Homo sapiens: one gene and its partners. The protein of the gene in region 2 purifies or fractionates together with the protein of the main gene of each other region. This does not show direct contact. Each region holds a gene or a part of one and is shown on either strand. Other genes may lie near its edges.

The links. The genes of interacting proteins can lie anywhere in the genome.
Region 1: the proteins of TSKS (region 2) and RGPD5 purify together in Homo sapiens (affinity purification with mass spectrometry, with the first as the bait; 2 studies listed by BioGRID). This does not show direct contact.
Region 3: the proteins of TSKS (region 2) and UTF1 purify together in Homo sapiens (affinity purification with mass spectrometry; 2 studies listed by BioGRID and IntAct, with this or other methods). This does not show direct contact.

What each region holds. Positions count from the first base shown.
Region 1 is NC_000002.12:109,825,294-109,832,321, forward strand, and holds part of RGPD5 (RANBP2-like and GRIP domain-containing protein 5/6), read left to right. Parts: intron 1-582; coding exon 583-741; intron 742-1,007; coding exon 1,008-1,145; intron 1,146-1,407; coding exon 1,408-1,554; intron 1,555-2,498; coding exon 2,499-2,678; intron 2,679-2,771; coding exon 2,772-2,855; intron 2,856-6,023; coding exon 6,024-6,159; intron 6,160-7,028.
Region 2 is NC_000019.10:49,746,286-49,753,313, reverse strand, and holds part of TSKS (testis-specific serine kinase substrate), read left to right. Parts: intron 1-3,146; exon of another isoform or gene 3,147-3,252; intron 3,253-4,823; exon of another isoform or gene 4,824-4,844; coding exon 4,845-4,940; exon of another isoform or gene 4,941-5,145; coding exon 5,146-5,229; intron 5,230-5,841; coding exon 5,842-5,925; intron 5,926-6,515; coding exon 6,516-6,844; intron 6,845-7,028. UniProt on the Homo sapiens protein: May play a role in testicular physiology, most probably in the process of spermatogenesis or spermatid development.
Region 3 is NC_000010.11:133,225,359-133,232,075, forward strand, and holds UTF1 (undifferentiated embryonic cell transcription factor 1), read left to right. Parts: upstream 1-4,858; 5' UTR 4,859-4,930; coding exon 4,931-5,480; intron 5,481-5,608; coding exon 5,609-6,084; 3' UTR 6,085-6,200; downstream 6,201-6,717.

The sequences.
Region 1 (7,028 bases), on a different chromosome or scaffold from region 2:
GTGTCACCATTAGGTGTAGATGGTCAGCCTTTTGAACAAACTGACACTACAGAAGAGGCAGGTTTCAGCTATCTAAAAAGGACAACTGTTAAAAAGTAGTTTGGATTGCTACGTTAGAGTGGTATCATTAGAAGCATTTAAAAGTTGAGTGTAGAGGCCGGGTGCGGTGGCTCACACCTGTAATCCCAGCACGTTAGGAGGCCGAGGCGGGCAGATCACAAGGTCAGGAGGTCGAGATCATTCCTGGCTAACACGGTGAAACCCCGTCTCTGCTAAAAATACAAAAAAAAACTCTACTAAAACTACAAAATTAGCCAGACATGGTGGCAGGTGCCTGTAATCCCAGCTACTTGGGAAGCTGAGGCAGGAGAATTGCTTGAACCTGCACGGCAGAGGTTGCAGTGAGTTCACTGGTATTAAGGTGGTTTAGTTATTACAGTATTTGGAAGTTGAACAAATGACTATTGAGGTACCATTTGGTTTTGACTTGAAATTTTAGCCAGTTCTTACAACTTGTAAATGAACTTTAGATCTAATCATGCGTGTTCCTTAAAGTTGTGTGCTTTTAACTTTCTTTTTTAGGGCAGCGGTCTTAATTCTTTTTATGGTCAACTAGAATACATAGGGAGAAGTGTTCATTATTGGAAGAAAGTTTTGCCATTGTTGAAGATAATAAAGAAGAACAGTATTCCTGAACCTATTGATCCTCTGTTTAAACATTTTCATAGTGTAGACATTCAGGTAACAGAGTTCCTTTATGAATTTATTGGAGATGGGAATTTCCAGTTTATAAACAAAGACGTGGAGCTATAAACTGCTTAAATTAATTGCCTTGTTATTTAACGGTAATCTTGTTTTCTAAATTCACTAGCTCTCACAGATAAGATATGACAGAGAAGAGTAATGAGATGTTTGTCTCTTAAGATCATATAAAATCTTTGGAAAATCATTTGGGTTTTATATTCTGAGTATAAACAATTTGACTAAAAACTATTCTATGTGTTTAGGCATCAGAAATTGTTGAATATGAAGAAGACGCACACATAACTTTTGCTATGTTGGATGCAGTAAATGGAAATATAGAAGATGCTGTGACTGCTTTTGAATCTATAAAAAGTGTTGTTTCTTATTGGAATCTTGCACTGGTAAGTAGATGCAGTACTTGAGCTAAAAGTTGTATTTATTTATTTATTATTTTTTTTAAAAGACGGGGTTTCTCTGTTGGCCAGGCTAGAGTGCAGTGGCACAATCTTGGCTCACTGCAACCTCTGCTTCCCAGGCTCAAGCGATTCTTGTGCCTCAGCTCCCGAGTTGCTGGGATTACAGGCATGAGCCACCATGCGTGGCCAAGCTGAAAGTTTTTTGTTTTAAAAAGCTAATGATTTCATGAAAGCACTATTTGTATAGATTTTTCACAGGAAGGCAGAAGACATTGAAAATGATGCCCTTTCTCCTGAAGAACAAGAAGAATGCAGAAATTATCTGACAAAGACCAGGGACTACCTAATAAAGATTATAGATGACGGTGATTCAAATCTTTCAGTGGTCAAGAAAGTAAGTAGCAGGTTGTTGTATGTACGTTCTTACTGATAACCCACTGGTCAGTGTTTTTGCGTTGGTCTTATATTTTGGTAATTTCAAAAATACTCAGTAATATGTTGTTATTAATGCACAGAAGGGATGCGTGTGTCTAAATGCTTAGATTTGCTTGCTTTGTCTTAGGTTTGGTGTGTCTTTTTAAACTTGGGAATCTAGGTATATGCTCTTAAAAAGTACTTCTTGGGGAATTAGAAAAGATTTCTAAGATAAGACATTGATTTTGTTATCTTAGCAGTGTAATCAAAACAAATATTATAACCTCAGGACTAATTCTTAATGAACTTTGCTGAAATTGAAAGTTGTTGCTGACAACTTAAGAGCATTTCTTCTCATCGTCATCAGCCATTATGAACGCCCTTGTTTTCTTGCTGTCAGCTGTTTGAGATTGTCATGATGATGTTAAATTATGTTCAGTCTTCTGAGTGTTTTGTTGATTAATTTGTGTTACTACTCTTTTATTAGGATTTATGTTGTCTGGTGTATTGTAGCATCTGTATTTCTGTCACCATTGAAAATCAGTTAGAAAACATCAGTAACTTATTTTGTTCACTTGGAAAAGCTTTCCAAGTTAACATTCCTCTACAATTATCATGGTTAACAGAAGTAATAGAAAGAGCATGGACTTTAGAATCAGAAGATGTTAGACTGTACAACACTTTTCTGTGTTCCTGAAGAAAAAAATAGAATAAAGACAAAAAAATAAAAATAATAATACAAAACAACAGAAAAACAAAGAAAAAAGATAATTAAAAAACACTTTCACGTGTATTATTATTTAAAGTGTAAAGTGCTTATTAAAGTGACAAAAATGTAAATAAGATAAAATATATCATTTTAGAGTTTTTACTTTTGGAATTTTTTGCAAATGAAAGCCCTTAATTAATGTCTTTTATTTTTAGTTGCCTGTGCCCCTGGAGTCTGTAAAACAGATGCTTAATTCAGTCATGCAGGAACTCGAAGACTATAGTGAAGGAGGTCCTCTCTATAAAAATGGTTCTTTGCGAAATGCAGATTCAGAAATAAAACATTCTACACCGTCTCCTACCAAATATTCACTATCACCAAGTAAAAGTTACAAGGTAAACAGGAAAGAATGGAATCATTTCATTGTGAAATTGTTTCTGTTCTAAGTGTTTTAAATGCTGTTTTGTTATTTTTATTTTTTTTTTCAGTATTCTCCCGAAACACCACCTCGATGGACAGAAGATCGGAATTCTTTACTGAATATGATTTGCCAACAAGTAGAGGCCATTAAGGTAAGTCACTTAATTTCTCTAGCTGTACTTTTTATTCCAAGATTCCTTCCCTGGCTACTCTCTCACTTTTTTTCTGAAGCTGGTCAGAATGTCCCCTTGCCATCCAAATAGTATGGCAAGGGGACATTTTGGTCTTTTTTTTTTTTTTTTAAGACAAGGGTCTTGTTCTGTTGTGCAGGCTGGAGTACAGTGGTATGATCACAGCTTACTGCGGCTTCAACCTCCTAGCTCAAGAGAGCCTCTTGGCTCAGCCTGCCACGAAGCCAGGACTACAGACAGTCACATGCCACCAGGCCCAGCTAATTGTTGTATTTTTTGTAGAGATGGGATTTTGCCATGTTGCCCAGGGTGGCCTTGAACTCCTGGCTCAAACAATCCTCCTGCTTCAGCCTCCCAAAGTGCTGGGATTGCAGGTGTGAGCCACTGTGCCCAGCCTACATACCTCGGTCTTGACCCTTTACCATATTTTGTTTTGTTTTGTTTTGAGATGGAGTCTCACTCTGTTGCCCAGTCTGGAGTGCAATGGTGTGATCTTGGCTCACTGCAACCTCCACCTCCCAGGTTCAAGTGACTCTCCTGCCTCAGCCTCCCGAGTAGCTGGGATTACAGGCACCCGCCACCAGGCCCAGCTAATTTTTGTATTTTTAGTAGACACAGAGTTTCACCATGTTGGCCAGGCTGGTTTTGAACTTCTGACCTCAGGTGATCTGCCCACCTTGGCCTCCCAAAGTGCTGGGATTACAGGTGTAAACCACCGCACCCAGCCCTTTACCATATTTTTGAAAGTACTTTATGTGTCTCTCTCCTCATCTTCCACAAAATTTGAGACCTTCAAAGGTAGAAACTGTTTTATTTAAAATATAAGAGTTCCTGACACAGAGAAGGTTCCCGAGTGATTGAAGTGCTACAATGTACTAATCATACTCTGGTCTATGAGTTCATTCCCAGATTAGCTGTGGATTACATGTGTTTCAAATGTATAGCTAGGAATCGAAAAGTGGTCTGAGCTTCAAAAAGTCTTACTATATTTTAATACTTCCATATGAATTTGACTTAATTATGTAAGGAAATAGTTATGTATATATATCTTATTTTAACAATAGGGTTCAAAGGAGCTTGACTTTTTTGGAATTGGAAATAAAAGTAGGTTCTTTCATGTTTATCAAGCAAGAACTAAATTACTCATACTGCTAAAGTTACATCAAGGATATGCTGATGTGTGGCGATTATTACAGTGTGATCAGCAGCATTTGCAAATTAAGAGAATACTATTTGGTGGGGAAGACATTTTTGAATTTGCACAAAAATTTTGAATGTTAATTCTGTGTAGTCGTGGCCTATGACAATTACATACAATTTTGACTTAACATACAGGTTTCAGGCTCCCAACATTGTATTCTGTGGAAGTATAGTGGAGCACTAGTCCATGAGCTTGAAAAGCTTGGTACTAGTACTGACTCTGCCATTAATTAATGATCTTGGGCCAGTCACTTCCTTTGTGACTGTTTGGCTTCTTATCTTTAAAATGAGAGAATTATTGAAGCCAGTTCTCATCACACTGAATGTTAAAAATTACAGTTACAGCAGTGATTGCAAATTCAAAGCTCTGGTGCGGATACCAACAGTGACTATAAAGTTTTCTAGGTGATTCCACTAGTTTCTTATTTCTTGGATGTGTATGTGTAGCATCTGGACTAGGCACTGTAGATGGATGAATGGGGGAAATTTTATTTAGCTTGAAAATTGAGATAGTTTTGGACCTCATGGTTAGGTCTTTCTGGGAAATTTTTAATTGAAACACTTGTAGAAACAGAAAGCAGACATGCTAGATCTGTCCCTGACCTCACTTGTTAGAACTGATCGGATTCCTGGGCTGATACAGAGAAGTTTGAAACTTTTCAAAATTTACCTGTTTTCTGATACCACTACAATTTCTTTGGAAAAAGAATTTCCTGTTAAGTGTCTGTTTTGTAAGGGGACATTTTGTAGGTTCTAGGGTGTTGGGTATGGTGCTGTCATTTAGTTTTCTTCAGCAGAGATCAAGTAGCCACATAGCTACACTAGACGGCATTGGATCTATCTGCCATCTTGTCAAGGCAGCAGAGTTGTGTTAAGAAAACATTTTTGGAGTCAGATGTGTTTCAAATTCCAGCTGTTATTCCCTGCATCCGTTTCTCTCATTTTAAGATAGGAGCTAATATTGTTTACCTAACAGTGTAGATGGTGTAAAAATTAAGAGTTTAAGTGCATTGGACGTATTATTATATACATAATAAATTCTCTGCAGCTACTACTTTTTTCCCTTTCCTGGTGGAGCATTTGAACATCACCTTGAGAATTAGTTGTATTTTGTTTGAACACAGGGTTAAGTGAAAAGCTAATTTGGGGAGGTGATTTGGAATGTCAGGTAGTCCAGGTTGCAGTGTAGAAAGAACACACTGAAAGGATGGTCAGTGTAATGTTAGAGGACTGTGAAAGTTGGGGAAAGAAGTTTAGTTTGTAGGTACTTGTTTTTTTGAGCAGGGAATTGTCTTGGCTGGAGGTGAACGTCAGAAAGGTTAATGTAGGCAAGTGTAGAATGGAAATGAAGGTGTGATCATTTAGGAGGTTATTTGTTTAGGTGAGAGAGTTAATGAATTAGGTTTTGTATTAACGAATGAAAATGGGAGCAGATAAATTTTTAACAAATTAAGAATCATATTTTAAAATCAGCACCAGGTACCTAGAACTCTTTGGCAAATAGAAACTTTCAAAAGATATAATCAGGTCCGGGCGTGGTGGGTCACACCTATAATCCCAGCACTTTGGGAGGCTGAGGTGGTGGATCACTTGAGGTCAGGAGTTCAAGACTAGCCTGGCAAACATGGTGAAACCCCATCTCTACTATTATACCAAAAATTAGCCGGGCGTGCTGGCTGACGCCTGTAATCCCAGCTACTCGGGAGGCTGAGGTGGGAGAATTGCTTGAGCCCAGGAGGTGGAGGTTGCGGTGAGCCAAGATTGTGCCATTGCACTCCAGCCTGGACGACAGATCGAGACACCATCTCAAAAAAGAAAAAAAGAAAAAATCAGTTATTTAAATTTAAAAGAGTAAGTTTCCCCAGCACTGTTTCTGGCATGATATAATTAAATGATTAAAATTATTTGATTTTTTTTTTCTTCCAATAGAAAGAAATGCAGGAGTTGAAACTAAATAGCAGTAAGTCAGCATCCCGTCATCGTTGGCCCACAGAGAATTATGGACCAGACTCGGTGCCTGATGGATATCAGGGGTCACAGACATTTCATGGGGCTCCACTAACAGGTGAGCTGGCAAGTGGATAATCGCATATTTTAGTAAAACTACTTTACTTCCCTCTTTTAAGTAGATAACGTGTGAAATCACCTTGTTTATATATGTTTGTTAATATACATGTCAACGTCTGTTTATATGTGACTTCAAAAGCTGTATTAGGTGTTACGGAGATTTTTATAATCCCAAGCAGAAAAAACGAGCCGTATGTGATCACGTGTATATAAAGGCTTAAAGAACACTTAATCCACACCTCAGATGAGCTGAGATGAGATTATTCCTTAAATTGCAAAATGTTATTGAATAGAGTTATGCACTAAGAAATGCTTAATTAAGAACCTACACCTCTGGGGAATTATTTTGATGATAATGATGAGAGGCAGGACGTTATATAGGAAATCTTACTTAATTTGAAATATTATGGTTATATAAAGAAAGAAAAGGAGTTTGGACCTGAATCATACTGGGTTTTTAAGTTCTGCTCTATCACTTACTATAATAGCTGTGTAAGTTAACCTGTCTGAAATGTGGAGATAATACTTGCCTTACATAATTACTATGAGCATTTGTGTATGTGCAGGTGGGCGTGGGTGTGTATCAGACATTTATTAGAGTATACAGTAAACAGTTAATGAACTAAGGTTACTAATAGTGTTTACTGTGGGTTGGCTGTGTGCAAAAGTGCTGTGTGAATGTAATTTGATTTAATTACAGTAACTTAGAATGGCCGGTACCATTATTAATCCCTTTTTTATAAATAAGGAAATGGATAAAGAAAGGTTAGGTAACTTACTCATTATTATACAGCTAGTTATTGATAGAGCCGAGATTCACACTCCAGTGGTGTAACTCCAAAGCACTTGCCAGTATAATACATTGCT
Region 2 (7,028 bases):
TGGGATTACAGGCATGAGCCAACACGCCCGGCCTATTTTATTACTATTTTTTAAGGGATTAGGTTTTACTATGTTGCTCAGGCTGGTCTTGAACTTCTGGGCTCAAGCAGTCCTCCCACCTCATCCTCCCAAATTGTTGGAATTACAGGTGTGAGCTACTGCACCTGGCCTGTAGTTGCTTTTTAAAAAACAGACTTTTCTGAACTATTTCTGTAATATCTGTGTTCTTTGTCATGTTTGGCCACTGAAGTCTCTGTTCTCTAATTTTAGTGGTTAGCTAATGATTGGAGAGACATTTCCTTAAACTGGAACAACAACAAAATCTTCTAGTCTTTGCCAAATGGCACTCTGTGTGCCTGATGAGGCACACCTTTAACACTCAGACAATTTACAACTCTACCTTAGCCTTCCCTTCCTGCTTGTGCAGCGTTTCAAGGTTTCAAGGTCAGCCAGAGGTGAAAAGCTTGGGGCCTTCTCAGAACTTTCCCAAGCATGTACACAACCCTACACAGGCCAATGGCTTTCTACATTCCCAGGAATTTGTTGGAACATTTCAAGGCTTCTACAGATATGTCCATCAGATTTTCCTTTTAAGATTTTTTGCTTTTTATTGTTTACCCCAACTGTTATCCATTGCCTTCGGCAGTAGCAACATTAAAACAAGCGTAAAATTTTTTTTTCTTTACAAATGTTCCCTCTCCCACTCCATGTTAGTCCATTCTTGCATTGCTATAAAGGAATACTCAAGGCTGGGTATAAATAAAAGAGGTTTAACTGGCTTATGGTTCACAGGCTATCTGATAAACATGGTGCCAACATCTGCTCAGCTTTTGGTGAGGGCCTCATAGCAAAAGGTGATGGAGCCAGCATATCACCTGGCAAGAGCAGGAGCAAGGAGATGCCACACAAGTTTTTTTTTTTTTTTTTTTTGAGATGGAGTTTTGCTCTGTTGCCCAGGCTGGAGAGCAGTGGCATGATCTCGGTTCACTGCGACCTCCACCTCCCGGGTTCAAGCGATTCTCCTGCCTCAGCCTCCCAAGTAGCTGGGACTACAGGCATGCATCACTATTCCTGGCGAATTTTTGTATTTTCAGTAGAGTCGGGCTTTCGCCATGTTGGCCAGGCTAGTCTTGAATTCCTGACCTCAGGTGATCTGCCCACCTTGGCCTCCCAGAGTGCTGGGATTACAGGTGTGAACCACCACGCTCAGCCTGGGAGTTACATTTTTTTGTTGTTGTTTTTGAGACAGGATCTCAGTGTCATCCAGACTGGAGTGCAGTGGCGCAATCTCGGCTCACTGCAACATCCACCTCCCAGGTTCAAGCGATTCTTCAACCTCAGCCTCCTGAGGAGCTGGGACTACAGGTGCACACCACCACACCTGGCTACTTTTTTTTTTTTTTTTTTTTTTTTTGTAGAGTTGGGGTCTCACCATGTTGTCCAGGCTGCTCTCAAACTCCTGAGCTCAAGTGAACCTCCTGCCTCAGCCTCCCAAAGTGCTGGGATTACAGGTGTGAGCCACTGTGCCTGGCAAGGGATGACATTTTAACATGAGATTTGGAGAGGACAAACATCCAAATCTTTCCTTCAACTATCAGAGATGCTTTCACGGCTTTGCCAGTTCTGAAAAGGAAAGACAAATATTCTGTGTGGGGTCTTCCCAGGCATCACTTAACAATCATAGAATGACTCTTCTTTGGGTTATGAGGCTTTGAATGAGTTCTAGCTTCATTCTGCTTCCTCCCTGTGGGAAATGTGGGCTGTTATTTTCCAGGGTTCCTGCTGAGCTAGGGAGTGGGAGATAGGACTAGGATAAGTTAAAATTCCTCAAGTCTTGCCGTTTTTTATCGAGAGTCACTTTTCTTGAATAAATGCTCTTTGAGTTGCTGCAAGCCTTTGGTTAATTTCCAGAATTGTGAACAAACTGCTTCTTATGGTTTTTGTTAGTTTTTTCATTGTTTTTATGGAGGGGTGGAATTTTTGAATTCCTTTTTTTTTTTTTTTTTTTTTTTGAGATGGAATCTCGTTGTCGCCCAGGCTGGAGTGCAATGGCGCCATCTAGGCTCTCTGCAACCTCCGCCTCCTGGATTCAAGCGATTCTCCTGTGTCAGCCTCCCAAGTAGCTGGGATTACAACTGCCTGCCACCACGCCTGGCTAATTTTTGTATTTTTAGTAGAGACGGGGCTCCACCACGTTGGTCAGGCTGGTCTCGAACTCCTGACCTCAAGTGATCCACCCACCTCGGCCTCCCAAAGTGCTGGGATTACAGGTGTGAGCCACTGTGCCCGGCCTGAATTATTTAATCCACCATTTTGCTGTTGTTAACTGGATACAATATTTCTTATTCCACTTCTTCCCCAGAGCAATCATGCAAGAAATGTGTTGCTGCCTCCATCTCACAAGGGAGGAAACTTATTCTGTCTATCTTTTGTGTATTAGTTCAGCAACCATGAGAGAAACCAAGAGAACTGCTTTTTTGCACATAAAATGCTTGATAAGCTTAGTAGCTCTGCTCTTCAAATGCAGCAGGTTACAGGTGTCTACGTTCTGGTTGCTCAGCCATTTCTAGACAGTTGCTCTCGCCACTGCCTTCCAGCCATTAAGCAGGGGGAACAGGGGAAGAGATCATGCCTGTCTTTTCCACACATCGACCAGTGCCCACTTCCCTTCCATCGGCTGGAACTGGTCATAAACAGCTGGCAGAGGGCTCTCTGGGTCTCTTTTCCTTCAGGTGTGAAATAAGAATGTCAATGATAGGCCGGGCACGGTGGCTTACGCCTGTAATCCCAGCACTTTGGGAGGCCGAGGTGGGTGAATCACGAGGTCAGGAGATCAAGACCATCCTGGCCAACATGGTGAAACCCTGTCTCTACTAAAATACAAAAAATTAGCCTGGTGTGGTGGTGCACGCCCGTAGTCCCAGCTATTCGGGAGGCTGAAGCAGGAGAATGGCTTGAACCTGGGAGTGAGAGGTTGCAGTGAGCCGAGATCATGCCACTGCACTCCAGCCTGACAAAAGAGCAAGACTCTGTCAAAAAAAAAAAAAAAAAGAATGTCAATGATATTGAAGTTATACATTTGACTACTGTAACAAAAAAACACAAAATAACACAGCTTGAATAACACAGAAGATGTAATGTCTCACCCTGAAAGTCTTCACAGGTGGTTGGAATGGAGTATGGTGGCTCCATGTCAAGGATTCAGGCTTCTTCTGTTTCATTGTGTCCTCTATCTGCTGGTCCAAGACAGCCCTCAATTGTGCATTCCAGTGAAATGAGAGAAAAAGGGAAAGTTCTCACTCTTTTCCTATAAGGGATGACTCAGAAATTGACTATAATTCTGCACAGTCTAAGTAATGATGTAGGCTAAAAAAAAAAATAAATAAAAGAGAGAGAAAAAAGGAGGCTGGGCACAGTGGCTCATGCTTGTAAGACCAACACTTACAGGCAGACACAAAAGGATCACTTGAGCCCAGGAGTTTGAGGCCAGCTTGGGTAACGTAGTGAGAACCCATCTATACCAAACATCTTAAAATTTTGCTGGGCATGGTAGCAAGCACCTATACTCTTAGCAACTTGGGAGGCTGAGGCAAGAGGATCATTTCAGCCCAGGAGCTGGTGAGCTATGATAGTACCGCTCCACACCAGCCAGGGTAATAATGAGAGACCCCCCACACACACACACCTCCCCCAAAAATAAATTGACTACATTATTTCCACTCACATTCCATTGGCCAGAACTTAGTCACATGGCCACACCTAGCTGCAAGGAAACCTGGGAAATGTAGTCTCTGGTTGGGCAGTCATGTGCCAGGCTAAGGCTTCTGTAACTGTCCAAGCTGGGAGAATGGATCCTACCACATGCATCCCTCCTGAACCACGGATTGGCAGGAGTCGCACAACACTTTATGTGATATAAAGTAATGATGACCAGAGGCCACATGGTGTCATGGTTTAAAACAAGCGTTCTGAATCTAGATTCTGATGAGATCACCTAATGTGCTGAGTGCTTGGGAAGACAAGGGATATCCCATTTCTGAGACCCATTTGTCTCACTTGTAAAATAGGCCAAATAACCTCAAGAGGCGGAGTTGTGAAGAATAAAAGACAAGACAAGTGCTTGGTGCATAGCAAGTGTTCATATCTGAAAAGTGGCTTCCTTTGTAATTCACCAGTTCCTGGAGAGAAAGGGCATGTGTTTTCAAAGTTTCTCTTTTTAAGCTGTGGACCCCAAGGACTTTTTTTTTTCTTTAGACGGAGACTCGCTCTGTCGCCCAGATTGGAGTACGGTGGTGCAATCTCAGCTCACTGCAGCCCCTGCTTCCCAGGTTCAAGCAATTCTCCTGCCTCAGCCTCCCAAGTAGCTGGGATTAAAGGCACCACCACGCCTAGCTAATTTTTGTATTTTTAGTAGAGTTGGGGTTTCACCATGTTGGCCAAGTTGGTCTTGAACTCCTGACCTCAAGTGATCCACCCACCTCGGCCTCCCAAAGTGCTGGGATTACCAGAGTGAGCCACGGCACCTGGCCCCCAAGGACATTTAGCTCAGTGTTTGGTTGAGTCCATCCTTCTTCCTCCACATGTCTGAGCACCCCACCTCCATCCCCCTTTCCCTCCTGGATCCTATTTTTCTCCCAGCCCACCATGAAGAAAGGTCGTTTATGCCCTGGGTTTGCCGCGCAGGAATGCTAAGAATCAGAGGTATAGCCCTTGGCTCCAAGTCACATAGCCATTCCAGGGCAAAATCAAGGTGTAAACACAGCCTCCCAGTTCTGGAATTCTTCCTGGGCTTGGGGCTTGCCCCCACATACCCACTAACTCACCTGTCTCCCATTCTTCCCCAGAGTGGGGTCAACAGTGGATTGGTCCGCGCCAAAGACTCCATCACCAGCTTGAAGGAAAAGACCAACCGGGTTAACCAGCACGTGCAGTCTCTGCAGGTGTGAGGACCCCCTATATCCAACACCTGCCCTTCCTCCAGGGCCAAGTTCCCTTCTTGGAGCCTGCCTCCAGCAGAATGCACCCATAGCTCAGTTGGGGAGCTTGAGGCTCAGAAAGAAAAGGAACCTTCCCAGGCCCAGATCTTCTTTTCCACAGGCTGTCCCCTCGTGTCCTTGGCTAACCTCTCCTCCTTCCATGCTCCAGAGCGAGTGTTCTGTGCTGAGCGAGAATCTGGAGAGAAGGCGGCAAGAGGCAGAAGAGTTGGAGGGGTACTGCATTCAACTCAAGGTGAGCCAGTGGGACGCAGGAATGGATGGGGAGAGGGGAATGGGAGTAAGAAGAGGGTGGGAGAAAGAGGGGAGGAGGCTGGGTGCAGTGGCTCACATCTGTAATCCCAGCACTTTGGGAGGCCGAGGCAGGCAGATCACCTGAGGTCAGGAGTTTGAGACCAGCCTGGCCAACATGGTGAAACCCCATCTCTACTAAAAATACAAAAATTAGCCAGGTGTGGTGGCGGGCGCCTGTAATCTCAGCTACTTGGGAGGCTGAGGCAGAAGAATTGCTTGAATCCACGAGGTGGAAGTTGCAGTGAGCCAAGATTGCGCCACTGCACTCCAGCCTGGCCGACAGAGCGAGACTCAGTCTCAAAAGAAAAAAAGAAAAGAAAGAGGAGAAATGGAATGGGTGGACCGAAGAGAGGTGGGAGGAAGTGGAGGGGTGCCACTCTGGCACATCTGGCTAAGGAGGAAGCCATCCCCTTAGCCAAGGAAATGAGCTGGTGAGTGTGTCTTGTACTGGGGGGCTAGGAGGCCTGGAGCCTGGATGGAAACAGACAGGCTAAGGGTTGGGAGGCAGAACTGGAATGGGAAGGCAGGGCCCTCGCCCTGGTGTCTGACCCAGGAGAACTGCTGGAAGGTGACCCGGTCTGTGGAAGATGCTGAAATCAAAACCAACGTCTTGAAGCAGAATTCTGCCCTGCTGGAGGTAAGGGCTAGGGGGCAGTCCCAGGATTTGTGGGAGGAGGTCAGATGCACGAGGGACTCAAGATACACTTTTAGGTGGAACTCCCTGCCCCGACACCACCACCACACTGCACCTTCGTGCACATAGTCATCCTTAGAACTCGCTGATAAGAGGGATTCAAATGAGGCTCCAACACCCAGATGGGGGACTCTTGCCCTGCAGTCACATTCAGGTCCCAGAAAGAGAATCGAGCTGGACTTCAGGTGAGAAGGCCCGTCCTGTCCACATGCCCACTCATTTTCCAACAAAATGCTGAGAAAGCTTCAGTTGTTCTTGCCAAGTGGCCGGGACTGGTATTTGACGCCTGGAGGGCTTGGAGGGCCGGGTGGATACCTGGAGGCAGGCTGTGGGAGGTTAGCGGGAATTGGAGTCCAACTGGGCCTCAAATGGTGCCTCCCCTCCCTAATGACAGCCAGTGAGACTTCCAACATACTGTCCCCACAGGCGTTCTACTTCCAATCTCGGGGAGTACTGGAGCGGATTTTGGGGTGGAGGTGGTTGCGGGAGGAAAGCGGCTGGACGCTGTGACCCCGTCCTCCCTTACCACCCAGGAGAAGCTGCGCTACCTCCAGCAGCAGCTGCAGGATGAGACGCCGCGACGGCAGGAGGCCGAGCTGCAGGAGCCGGAGGAGAAGCAGGAGCCGGAGGAGAAGCAGGAGCCGGAGGAGAAGCAGAAGCCGGAGGCTGGCCTCTCCTGGAACAGCCTGGGCCCCGCCGCCACGTCCCAGGGCTGCCCCGGCCCGCCAGGGAGTCCCGACAAACCCTCGCGGCCACACGGCCTGGTCCCCGCAGGCTGGGGAATGGGGCCTCGGGCTGGCGAGGGCCCCTACGTGAGCGAGCAGGAATTGCAGAAGCTGTTCACCGGCATCGAAGAGCTGAGGTGGGCGGGACCTAGGGGCGGAGCCTCGAAAACGAGATCGGCGGGGACTCAGGGGTGGAGCCTCGAGGAGATGCGGTGGGCGGGACCCAAGGGACGGGGGTTCTCAAGTAGCTGAGGTGGGCGGTGACATGGGTGGAGCCTCGGGGACCTGAGGTGGGCGGGAACATGGGAGGAGCCTCGAGGA
Region 3 (6,717 bases), on a different chromosome or scaffold from region 2:
ACCTCTGAGTGGCCAACTGCAGCTCCCAGGGACTCCGAGACCTCCGGTCCGAGACCCTGCCTGGGTTCACCCCCCACAACCCAGACCCAGAACCGCTCTCCCCTTCCCTGCCCAGTGCCCCTCCTCCCCAGCCCAGACCCCCAGGTGCCCAAGGCCTGCTGCTGGAGCAGGCACCTTGGGCTGGGCCTGCTCCCCCAGGGCCCAGGGCCCCCCAGCTTAGAACAGCCCTTGGTGAGGTGGTCATGCCCGGGCAAAGGCCCTGCTTCCTGGAAAGGACACTCAGAGCAGCTCCAAGACAGAGGCTCTGTGGCGGGGGTCCCTGAGAGTGCCCCCACCCATCTCATGCCCCAGGGACCGCCACTGCCCACCGCCTCCAGCAGCCATGCATGTGCGCCCGCAGCCCTGCCTCCACAGCTCGCCACACACTCACGCTTCGCCAGAGACAGGAAGTGCGCTGCCTCCACGGCCCCTTGCCCTTGCTCAGGTTCTTGGACCCCAGGCAGCTGGTGTGGAGCCCCTTGGCCAGGGCCATGGGAGTCCCGCGCAGTCAGCTCCACATTGGCCTCTGCAGCTGGGTGACCAGAGCCCCGGGCACGGCCCCAGCTCCGTGGGGCTCTCACGGTGCCAATCACAAGACCCAGGGTTGTGCTTTTGAGTTTTAGAATTAGTCATTCTTTAGAGCAGCCAGCTAGTGGCATTTCTAGGAAAACTGTGACCTGTGACAAATCGCTGCATTTTTAATGTCAAGATGTGTTTTCCCACATAAATTCACCGGAGACATCCGGGCCCCGCTTCGATGTAACATGAGAGGAAGTCGGCGTCCTGGCCACGAAATGCAGTTCACTTTTTTTTAGGCTTTTATATGGATTATGTTTTGCTGACCCACGCCCGCATTTTCAGATTTTGTATCTAACAGACAGTGCTCAGTGCAAATCAACATTCCAGCGGTCAGGACTGACCCCGGGGCAGCACTGGGCTCAGGCTTCAGCGCGACTGTCCGCATGGCTCCCTCCCGTCCTGGCACCAATTTCTGAATAAAGTCCTTTCTACCAGCTGCTGCTGTGTGGTCACTCTGCGGGTCCCCACGGTGACCTCTGCAGGTCGACACGTTTTCCTTCATGGCCGCACGAAGGCCCCTTACAGGTGCTCACAAGGACTCCAGGTGCGAGATGTGCTCAACCCAGGACTGAAAACGAATCTGCCGGTCCACAGCGACGCCCTCTGATGCCGCAGAGAAAGGCCCGGGCCTGCCAGACGTGTGTCACAACTCAGGCCCCGCCAGGAGGAAAGCTACCGCCAGCACTCCCAGGCCGTGGGAACAAGCAAACGCACCGGCTGGGGCAGGAAACACTTGCTTCTGGTTGTGACTGCAAACAGCCTAAAAGAACGGACTCCCGTAACCACGCTCCTGTGTGCGCACATCCAGGCTCGCCCTCCATTGACAAAAAGGACGTCCCTCATGCTGGATGTGCAGTGTCTTCATCCAAGATCAGGACGGGCGTCTGTCCATCAGTTCTTACAGGCTATTTGCACAGACCCACGGCTGTTCTTGGGTCAATCTGCGCTAAACTCTGCCCAACCCAGCCAGTTCCCACCTGGCAGCCCTGTGGGCAAGACAGAGCTGGGTCCCCCGTCATCACGGTGCAAGCTCGCCGTAACTCTGACCACAGTGGAGCAGGAGGCCAGGACGGGGAGCTCCTGCAGGTGGGGCTTGTGGCCCGGGAAAGGACACTCTCACGGTTGTCACAGGGTAAGACTGGTGGACACCACTCAGGGAGGGGCTCACAGCCAGGGCTTCCAATGGTTTTGGGGTTGTAAACTGTGGATGCTTTTGGGAAAAGAGCTGATGGGTCTTTCGGGAAGTTCCCGTGATGAACGGTGCGGTTATCCGCCTGGAGGGAGGCCCAGGAGAAGCCGAGAAGACAAGATGGTGGAGTCCAATTGTGCTGGACAGGAGCTGCCCGAGACAGGGGGCCCTGGTCCTGGTCATGTGTGCGTCCTCGCCCCCACGCCATGCAGGCCGGACCCCTCACTGCAGTGGCTCCAATAAATTCAGCTCCGCTGAGCACAGGACTTTTCTCTTAGAGAGCTGACAGCCAGCAACCTCATGAGCCTCGCTTCTCGGCGCCATCCACTCCCCGGCTCTGTCCCCCACGCCGCCATCCACTCCCCGGCTCTGTCCCCCACGCCGCCATCCACTCCCCGGCTCTGTCCCCCACGCCGCCATCCACTCCCCGGCTCTGTCCCAGACGGGTTCAAGGCAGGCTGTGCTGTGCACTGCAGTGCCACTGTGGGCTAGACAGTCTGCGCTGGCGTCCTGTGCACCATCATCTCTGATCTCCACCCATCAGATGCCCCCAGCACCCCCAACCCTCAGTTATTAAAAATCTTTTTTTTTTTTTTGAGACAGAGTCTCACTCCGTCACCTAGGCTGGAATGCAGTGGTGCGATCTTGGCTCACTGCAACCTCCACCTCTTGGGTTCAAGCGATTCTCCTGCCTCAGCCTCCTGAGTAGCTGGGACTACAGACACATGCCACGACACCCAGCTAATTTTTTGTATTTTTAGTAGAGACGGGTTTCACTGTGTTAGCCAGGATGGTCTCAATCTCCTGACCTCGTGATCCGCCCGCCTCGGCCCCCCAAAGTGCTGGGTGTCAACAGGCTTGAGCCACGCGCCCAGCCTTTTTTTTTTTTTTAGATCCACCTCCCAGGTTCAAGCAATTCTCCTGCCTCAGCCTCCCTAGAAGCTGGGATTACAGGTGCACATCCAACGCCTCGCTAATTTTTGTATTTTTAGTAGAGATGGGGTTTCACCATGTTGGCCAGGCTGGTCTCAGACTCCTGACCTCAGGTGATCCGCCTGCCTCAGCCTCCCAAAGTGCTGGGATTACAGCCACCACGCCTGCACGCCCCCCTTTTCTTTTTAAGACAGAGTCTTGCCCTGTCACCCAGGCAGGAGTGCAGTCAGGTCATCACGGTACACTGCAGGCTTAACCTCCTGAGCAAAAGGACATCCTCCCGCCTCAGCCTCCCAAGTAGCTGGAACTACAGGCACCTGCTACTACACTCGGCTATTTTTTATTTTTTTGCAGAGATGGGGGTCTCACTATATTGCCCAGGTCAGTCTCAAACTCCTGGCCTCAGGAGATCTGCCCACCTCAGCCTCCCAAAGTGCTAGGAATACAGGTGTGAGCCCCGTGTATGAGTGCCTGGCCAGGAACCACAGATTTCTTGAGAAGTGTCTGAAAAGCTGATTCTAGGACCAGGGTCGGCAAAGGACCAGATGAGGCAGGAGCATCCTGTATTGCCAGGGAGCTGGGAGGGGGTTTCAAAAGGACAAGGAAGAGAGGAGGAGGTGAGAAGACTTTCAATGGCCAAAGCAGGAACGATATGCGCAAAAATACAAATAAAAGCCCGGCACAGGGGCTCACTCCTGTAATCTCAGCACATTGGGAGGCCCAGGCAGGAGGATCACTTGAGCCCAGGAGTTCAAGACGAGCCTAGGCAACATAGCAAGACCCTGTCCCTACAAAAAGTAAAAAAAAAAAAAAAAAACTAGGTGCGTGTGGTGGTGCACACATGTAGTCCCAGCTACCAAGGAAGCTGAGGCTGGAGGATCACTTGGGCCCAAGAGTTCAAGGCTACAGTGAGCTGTGATCAGGCCACTGCACTCCAGCCTGAGTGACAGAAAGAGACCCCATTTGTAAAAAATAATAAAAACAAACAGAACTTTTAAAACAAATAAATAATAACAGCATCGGGTTATGACCTAAAGGATAAAATAAATATACACGAGCCCACACTGTAGAAATAAATGACTGAGTAAATAAATCAACAGGCAGAGAGACAAACCTTACAGAAGAATCCCAGAAAATACAGACACCCCTCCAGGAGGTGGGGCCTAATTACTCTCCCCATGAGTTGGGGATGGGCTGAGGGGCCGGATTCCAGTGACCAGAGCAGGGATGGAAAGGCGATACCTGAAGACTGCAAGAGTGGCAGACAGTCCGCACCCCAGCACGGAGCAGACCTCACCGGTGCTGAGCCACAAGACAGGAGGGGCGAGACTCCACCCCTGCGCCTTCCTTCCTAAAACCCACCACCCTAGTCGGATCACAGGAAGACACCAGGCAAACCCAAGTCGAGGAACATTCAACAAAACACCTGGCCCGTCCTCAACCGTGTCGAGGACGCGAGAAGCTGCCACGGCCCAGAGGAGACCCAGGAGACAGAAGGACTCGGCGCCGTGCGGCAAGGAGGAAGAGCATTTAATAGGAAGAGAATTTCCTCCTCCCAGGGATGCTGGCTGCAGACGCGCTGCAGATGGAAGAAGTTCAGATTTTAAAAGCTACTTCTGCGAGCGCGTGAATTCCGACACCCATTCCCGCGGCTGGCGTGGCTTCTCCTCGGACCCATCCCCTGGCCTGGCGACTCCCCCTGGGACCCGGGTCGGTCCTCCGGACCCCTCGCGTGCAGGTGCTGAGCCCGGGCGGGGGCGGCGGGGGCGGGGGCAGCACTGGGGGCCGGACAAGGGGGCGCCAGCGCCTTCCGGAGCGGGAGGGGCTCCGCACACACCTCGACGGGGGCGGGGGTAGGCTCGGCACAGGCTAAAAACGAGCGGAGCCGCCGGGGCTTAGGCATCGCGGCACCTCCGTTGAACGGGTCTAAGAACAGAACTCCTGAGGACCCTCCGTTTCCAACCGAAGCCAGTCTTTGCTCTGCGTCTTCCCGGCCGCAGCGCCAGGACCGACCCCTTAGGACCCGGCGGGCGGGGCGGGGCGCGCGGGGCGGGGCGGGGATGGTGGGAGGGTCGCGTAGACCCGGCTGGGACGGAGGGACGGCGGCGCGGGATGCTCAGAACGCGTGTGGGCGGCCCGGGCGGCGTCTGGCCCTCTCCCCATCCTCGCGCGCCGCGCCCCAGCCCCGGGATGCTGCTCCGGCCCCGCAGGCCGCCCCCGCTCGCGCCCCCCGCGCCGCCCTCGCCCGCCAGCCCCGACCCCGAGCCGCGGACACCCGGAGACGCCCCGGGGACCCCGCCCCGGAGGCCCGCCTCGCCCAGCGCGCTGGGGGAACTCGGGTTGCCGGTGTCCCCGGGCTCGGCGCAGCGCACGCCCTGGAGCGCCCGGGAGACGGAGCTGCTGCTGGGGACGCTGCTGCAACCGGCCGTGTGGCGCGCGCTGCTCCTGGACCGCCGCCAGGCCCTGCCCACCTACCGCCGCGTGTCGGCCGCGCTGGCCCAGCAGCAGGTGCGCCGCACCCCCGCGCAGTGCCGCCGCCGCTACAAGTTCCTTAAAGACAAGTTTCGCGAGGCGCACGGCCAGCCGCCCGGGCCCTTCGACGAGCAGATCCGGAAGCTCATGGGGCTGCTGGGCGACAACGGGCGCAAACGGCCTCGCCGCCGCTCCCCGGGGTCCGGGCGCCCCCAGCGCGCCCGCCGCCCGGTCCCCAACGCGCACGCGCCGGCTCCCAGCGAACCAGGTAGGCGGGGGACTGGGGGGCCAGGTGGGGCCGAGGACTGCGGAGGAACCGGGGGCTGCCGAGGGCTGCGGGGGAGGGGCGGGCGCGCCCCGCGAAAATCCGCCCGACCGCCTGCTCCGCGTTCCCAGACGCCACCCCGCTGCCCACCGCCCGCGACCGCGACGCGGACCCCACCTGGACGCTCCGCTTCAGCCCGTCCCCACCGAAGTCTGCGGACGCCTCCCCCGCCCCCGGCTCCCCGCCAGCTCCCGCCCCGACCGCCCTCGCCACCTGCATCCCCGAGGACCGCGCGCCCGTCCGCGGCCCCGGGTCCCCGCCGCCACCCCCGGCCCGCGAAGACCCCGACTCGCCGCCCGGCCGCCCCGAGGACTGCGCGCCCCCTCCGGCCGCGCCCCCGTCGCTGAACACCGCCCTGCTGCAGACCCTGGGGCACCTGGGCGACATCGCGAACATCCTGGGCCCGCTGCGCGACCAGCTGCTGACCTTGAACCAGCACGTGGAGCAGCTGCGCGGCGCCTTCGACCAGACAGTGTCCCTGGCCGTGGGCTTCATTCTGGGCAGCGCGGCCGCCGAGCGAGGGGTCCTCAGGGACCCGTGCCAGTGAGTCCCGGCTGCGGCCAGTCTCCCCTCTCCAGGCCGAGGCCCCTCCGCCCTGACCCCTCCTGCTGCCTTCCCACCCCCGTTCTTGGGTATGTTCAATAAAAGGATTGTTTTCCTAGAGTCCGGGCTGTGTAGGAGTGCGGGTCTGGAGACGGGGAGGGAGTGGCGCCCTGCAGTGCTGGGGCTGCAAAGGTCAGGGCAGGGTTGCGACGCTCTCATCACAGAGAGGGGCTCCCACTCGCTCCTAAGGTGTAGACAGAGCTCCGTGGGGCGCACCCAAATGTAGGCCGAGGAGGCCAGGCTCGAGGGTGGTGGGCGTGGTGCCTGCTGCCGGGTCCTGGTCACACACTCGGTTCTCAAGGCCACACCAGACTCTCCCTGCCCCTCCCGGGGAGCCCCACTGAGTAAAACGAAGTGAACGGGTGGGCTCCGCTGGGGGTCCGGAGAGAACCTGAGGCTGACCCCACCTCTTCACTCAATGCAGGGGTAGGGGTTAGAGTGGTCGCCTCCACACTGCCCAGCAGAGAACCCCCTTTGACCCAGGAGTAGCATGGGGGGTTCCGAAGGTCCTCCCATGGCCTCGGGCAGCCTTGGACCACCCGGCTGAACTCTCCCAGGTCCTGGGAAACAAAAGGGG